Linked DNA regions of Homo sapiens: region 1 is linked to region 2. Evidence: fine-mapped QTL for protein levels in blood plasma. A gene starts in region 2. The other region holds a variant in brackets. All regions are shown on one strand. Distances are from middle to middle.

Region 1 (2,929 bases), 33 kb after region 2:
CTGTCTTATTACTTTGTTATATTTTGAAAATGCTACAGGATATCTACTATGTACTTTTTTTTTTTTTTGAGACAAGGTCTTGCTCTGTTGCCCAGGCTGGAATGCAGTGGCACGATCTTGGTTCACTGAAACCTCCGCCTCCTGGGTTCCAGCTATTCTTGTGCCTCAGCTTCCCGAGTAGCTGGGACTACAGGCATGTACCACCATGTCAGCTAATTTCTGTATTTTTAGTAGAGATAGGGTTTCACCATGTTGGCCAGGCTGGTCTCGAACTCCTGGCCTCAAGCAATCAACCCACATGGGCCACCCAAAGTGCTGGGATTACAGGTGTTAGGCACTGCACCTGACCAGCTGTGTAATTTTTAAAAGGCTGAATATATACTTCAGTAAGTTAGATAAAAAATAACAACTTCAGATATTTTGATTTCCCCTTCACTCTTATTTTTACAAAGATATATGGATTAGAATTGTTTTTTTCTCATTTTTGGTTTATTCATTAATTAATTCATTTATTTATCAACGCTCTAGTGAATACCTTCTTTCTTTAGTGCTAACAGGGTTGACAGTAATGAATATACTTAGAACCTGTTCTCATGGTGCCTACAGTGTGGTATGGAGGAAGAAAATAAACAAATTAAAAATAGCTAGCTATATGATCTTATTCATCCATTTAATGTAGTCAGTGCATCACTCTAGGCACTGGGAGTTGGTACTGAGCAAGATATGTTCCCTTCTTTCTAGGAACTGATGGTGGCAGAAATTTAAAATTAAAAATAAATGTACATGGTAATTATTGAACTCTAACAGGTGATCTTAATAGAAGCTAACTCCTAATGATGATAATTCCTTAGGAATGAAGAACCATAGATGCCTTTTAGCAGAATGAAAGTGCCATTTTTATTATGAGACAGGTCTAGCCTGCAGAAATTTTTCAGTTTTACTTGCAAATGAATAAAATAGATTAAATTCCTCTAACTTACCTTGAAATTCCTAAAACGAAGCAGCAGATGGCACCGTCACCTCATTCATGCCTGCTGATTTTGCCACATCATTTTGGTTAACTCATGCTGGCTTAGCTGAGCTCAAACACCACAAGGAATCTATTTTTATCAGTTTTTCTGTACTTACCTTATTTGCCATACAAGGATCCCAACAGAGATTTAAGACCCATTATCATTTTACTGGTGAAGAAGCAAGCATAGAAAATTAAACAATATATCTAAAGTCATACAGTCCATCAGTGACAGAGTCAGAAGCAGCAATGCCACATGCTGCATTTACTGGGTAGAACGTAGACTCTGAAATTCCAAGCTCTACAAGTAACTTGAAGTTTTTTCCTTCTTATGTAATTTAATTCACCTATATTGAGCTGTTTCTTTTATTTATTTATTTATTTATTTTGTTTCGAGGTGAGGTCTCGCTCTGTTGCCCAGGCTGGAGTGCAATTGTGCAATCTCTGCCTCCCGTGTTCAAGCAATTCTCTCACCTCAGCCTCCCGAGTAGCTGGGATTACAGGGGCGTGCCACCATTCCTGGCTAATTTTTGTATTTTCAGTAGAGATGGGGTTTTACCATGTTGGCCAGGCTGGTCTCGAACTCCTGACCTCAGGTTATCCACCCACCTAGACTTCCCAAAGTGCTTAGATTATAGGTGTGAGCCACTGTGTCCACCTTTTTTTTTT[G/T]TTGTTTGCTTTTTTAGACAGAGTCTTACTCTGTTGCCCAGGCTGGAGTGTAGTGTCAGGATCTCAGCTCACTGCAGCCTCCTCTGCCTCCCGGATTCAAAGGATTCATGCTTCAACCTCCCGAGCAGCTGGGATTACGGGCCTGTACCACCATGCCCTGCTAATTTTTGTATTTTTAGTAGAGATGGGGTTTTGCCATGTTGGCCAGGCTGGTCTTGAACACCTGGCCTCAAGTGATCTGCCCGCCTCGGCCTCCGAAAGTGCTGGGATTACAGGTGTGAGCCACTGTGCCCGGCCTGTTACCCCTCTTTTAAAAAGTGAATGGAATTTGTCAGGTGACTAGCTTCCAAATATTTTCATTGCTCAATTGCTTTTTTTCTAAATGAAATTGTATATAAAATTTCCACCTATCAAAAAAGCAACATCAGAGATGCTCTGGTTGAATCAATATTGGGACAGTCCAGAGACCTTCCTGTTTGGCCTGTCCTGCATCACATTCTGCTGTATTTTTCTACTAAAGATGATGCTGAGTTATAGGATACAGAACTGAAACATGGATGTCCAATAAAGTAACAAAAGTGAATGCAATGGAACACAGAGCCGCTATGGGTAAAATAAAGAGGGATGACCCACAGGTAACCTAAAGCAAACAAATAAACATACACAGCTGAATTTTGCTTCCTATGCCATTTTTTTTCTTGACTCCCACATTTGGAGATGCTTTTTCTTCTCTTCCAAGGTTTCTCCATTTGTACCCACGACAGGAACTGTCTATTTCGAGGGTAGATTTTACCTCCATGCCATTGCTCAAGAGTCTCCTGAAACTATCTCCTGCAGTCAAGATGAAAATGGCCAATTTGGGACTCAGTGTCCTTGGTCAACTGCCTTGTTCTTGCTTCTTCCATTTTATCTCACTGAACCCCAGGACTCCTTTTCCCAGCTACTAGGGAGGCTGACGAAGGAGAATCGCTTGAACCCGGGAGGCAGAGTTTGTGGTGAGCCAAGATGGCGCCACTGCACTCCAGCCTGGGCAGAAGAGTGAGATTCCATCCCTCCGAAAAAAGACAATTCAAAATTCAAGTAAATGATAAGTTTAAAAATACCAAAACTTGGTTTCAGGATTAATTCTAAAATTCATTTAATTGAATTTTTCTCTGATTGTACTCTTGAAAAAGAAGTAAGTGTAATATCGTATTGAAATGGTCAGAAGAAAAGGAGGGAGGAGAAGAAATAACACTTTTTTAAAAA
Region 2 (2,929 bases):
TTCAGTGTGATATCGTTTCAGTATTTTTTAATTCTTTTTTTTTTTTTTTTTTAAAGGGAGTCTCGCTCTGTTGCCCAGGCTGGAGTACAGTGGCACAATCTCAGCTCACTGAAAATGAAAAGCATTTTCATTTTCCACCTCCCAAATAGCTGGGATTATAGGCTTGCAACCAGGCCCAGCTAACTTTTGTATTTTTAGTGGTGACAGGGTTTCAACAGGTTGGCCAGGCTGGTCTCGAACTCCTGACCTCAGTGATCCACCCCCCCCCTCAGCTTCCCAAAGTGCTGAGATTACAGGCATGAGCCACTGCACCTGGCCAACTTTTTCAATTTGTTCTCAAATACTCTGCACATAATAAAAGGAATATAGGAAACAGGGAGGAGGAGGGAAATGGAATCCTAATTAGGCTGTCAATATTGGTAATTTTTCCTAATAGTTTCCTATATGTTTTATTTATGTATTTATTTTTCCATTCTTCCTTTGTGTATTCTTTTCTTTGCACTTTTTTTTCCTGGAGTAATTTAAAGTAAATGCCAGATATCATATCATTTTGCTTATAAATACTTCCTTCAGAAGACATCTCTAATAGATATATATCTGGTTAGGAGGTTGTCAAGGGAAAATAGAAAAGTATTCTATCAGTAAATACATATAGACATACTTATGGGTCTCTCATGTAAGCGTCTTTGTGACATGAGTCAATCATGGATTTTACTGAAATACATTATTTGATGGGTAATTCAACTGTGCTGAATATTAGTACTATACTAATAATTATTATTTATTGGCTTCTTATTATGCTCCAAGTACAAAGCTTGTCATTTTTAACCAGCGTGTCATTTGAATTCCTATAGCAACGTGACATTTTTCACAAACCTAGTGTAAAAAAGCTTATTATTTTTACCCAGCATGTCATTTGAATTCCTATAACAATGTTATCAGGTAGACATTATCCCTAATTTCCAGACATGTCATTTGAATTCCTATAACAATGTTATCAGGTAGACATTATCCCTAATTTCCAGACAAAGACATAGATTCAAAGTATTAAGATTTCCCAAGATTGTAGACTAAAGGAAAGTACTGAAACTAGCTCTTTCTGCATTCAAAGTGCTCTCTGCTGCTACGTTACACTGGCACTGCATGAACTAGTAGCCCCAGATAAATTCTAAAATCACCCAGGACACACCATCGCTGGAAATGGGAGCCATATGTGATTCACCCCAAAATTCTTAGATCCATTGCCAGATAAAACAGTGAAAATCAAAAGAGAATATATCTGATTCGTAAAAGACACCATATAGAAACAGTCTGCTAATGAAATTAGCAAACAAACATTGGAATCAAATATTTTGGCCCATAATTCTGGCACATTTTTTACAAATGTAGTGTGACTTACTCTCTTTGAATTTCAGTTTCTGTCTCTGAAGAGTGGGTACAATATCTCTCCTCTGATGCTCATGAAAAATAGTTTTCCCTTTCATAAATTACTTAGCGAAATATCCTGAAACACCTTCAGAATCACCACTTTCTCCACCTGCAATACACATAACTCAAGAATTTGCGTCAGCGAACTTCCCAATATGAAGCAAAGCCTCTCCTTCCTCCTACCAATGATTGAGTCATTCTTCTATTAGATAACAGTAGCTATTTAAATACTTCTGCAGAAGCTCACATATTTTTAGTTTGTTGAAGTTCGTGACTGCTTCACTCTCTCATTCTTAGCTTGAATTTGGAAATGACTTTTGATGACCTAAAGATCCAGACTGTGAAGGACCAGCCTGATGAGAAGTCAAATGGAAAAAAAGCTAAAGGTACTAGGGATGGGAAAATGTGTACAGGGAAAGAATCCCAGTGTTAGCCCCAAAATGTAAATTCACCGAAGAATGGGATTAGAAAGCTAAACACCCAAGTATGGGAAAATAGAATTAATACCATTTACTTAAAAGAAAAACAAGAAGGCTATAATGATGATGATGATGACAACTTATTTATAACAATTTATACTGAGTATTTACTACAGGTTATTCTATATGTTATTCACTTTCAGAGTATTATTTCTCAGAATCTTCGCAATAACATTTTGAGATTGGTACTATTACTATCTCCCTTTTACAGAGAGCTAACTGGGCATCAGGAGGACTAACAACATCATCCAGTTTCACGGAGCTAATAAGTGGTAGAGCTAGGACTGTACCACAAACTCCCATTTATCCAGAATTCTATACATCGGAGGGCTCGGGAACCAAATTTATCTGGTGTATATAACGATAATTTCTGTAAGAGTCCTTCAGGCACTACAAAAACCTGAAGTACCTCATGAATTATGCAGGCAAAGTAAATGATATTCAGTATAGTTTAGCATAAGTTACATTTTGTTGTGTACTACTGCTTTGAAAAATTGTAAGTTCTGTTTGACCCATACAGTAATTAAATTGCATAGCTATAAATTAATTCATAATCCCAATTCCACAGACAATCTGGGTAAATTGCCTTTTATTCTATATCTGTTCTGAGGAAAATGAACAGAATATAAGGAGAGAAAGAGAGACAAGTATTGTCAGAAATTTGGATAAAGAAATTCCAAATTACATTTCCAAAAACAAAACAGAAATTTCTCTCAATAGAGAACATAAGTGTGAGCATGGAGTGATTTAACATTTGAGCCAATGAACTAAATTGCTATAAAAACTGCTGATATTTATAGGTAAAACCAGAAGTGAACAATAGTCATTCGTTTCTTTACTCATTCATTATTTGTGTAGTAAATATTGAGGGTCTGAATTTTACAATAATCATGAGATTGATTTTTCTTTCAGAATCTTGGTTAGATCGGTACCTACTGCAAAGAATCGGATTGGTTTATGATTGGAAAATCACTAGTAGGGGCAGCAGTTGGATTAATGGTCTCTGCCTACCAAGGACACAG

Which allele goes with the higher level. Positions count from the first base shown, and alleles are read on the strand shown. Strength reflects both the effect of a copy and how common the allele is.
With allele G in place of T in region 1, the plasma level of the protein whose gene starts at base 1,684 in region 2 is lower (weak association).

Evidence for each region. PIP is the chance, under the fine-mapping model, that this variant and not a neighbour inherited with it causes the effect. Protein levels are from antibody-based Olink assays in UK Biobank. Linkage for the fine-mapping came from a reference panel and not from the study's own genotypes, which makes the PIPs less certain.
Region 1: its variant is fine-mapped to the plasma level of the OLR1 protein (UK Biobank, PIP above 0.99).

The regions. Positions count from the first base shown.
Region 1 is chr12:10,138,289-10,141,217 of GRCh38, reverse strand. No RefSeq gene overlaps it. Among named protein-coding and RNA genes, the nearest start is that of CLEC7A, 9.6 kb to the right of the region's middle. The variant G/T (reference allele first, on the strand shown) is at 1,682.
Region 2 is chr12:10,170,887-10,173,815 of GRCh38, reverse strand. It overlaps OLR1 (oxidized low density lipoprotein receptor 1), which reads left to right and starts at 1,684. Exons shown (of 6, transcript NM_002543.4): 1 at 1,684-1,814. The coding sequence starts at 1,739. It also overlaps a transcript of TMEM52B not described here.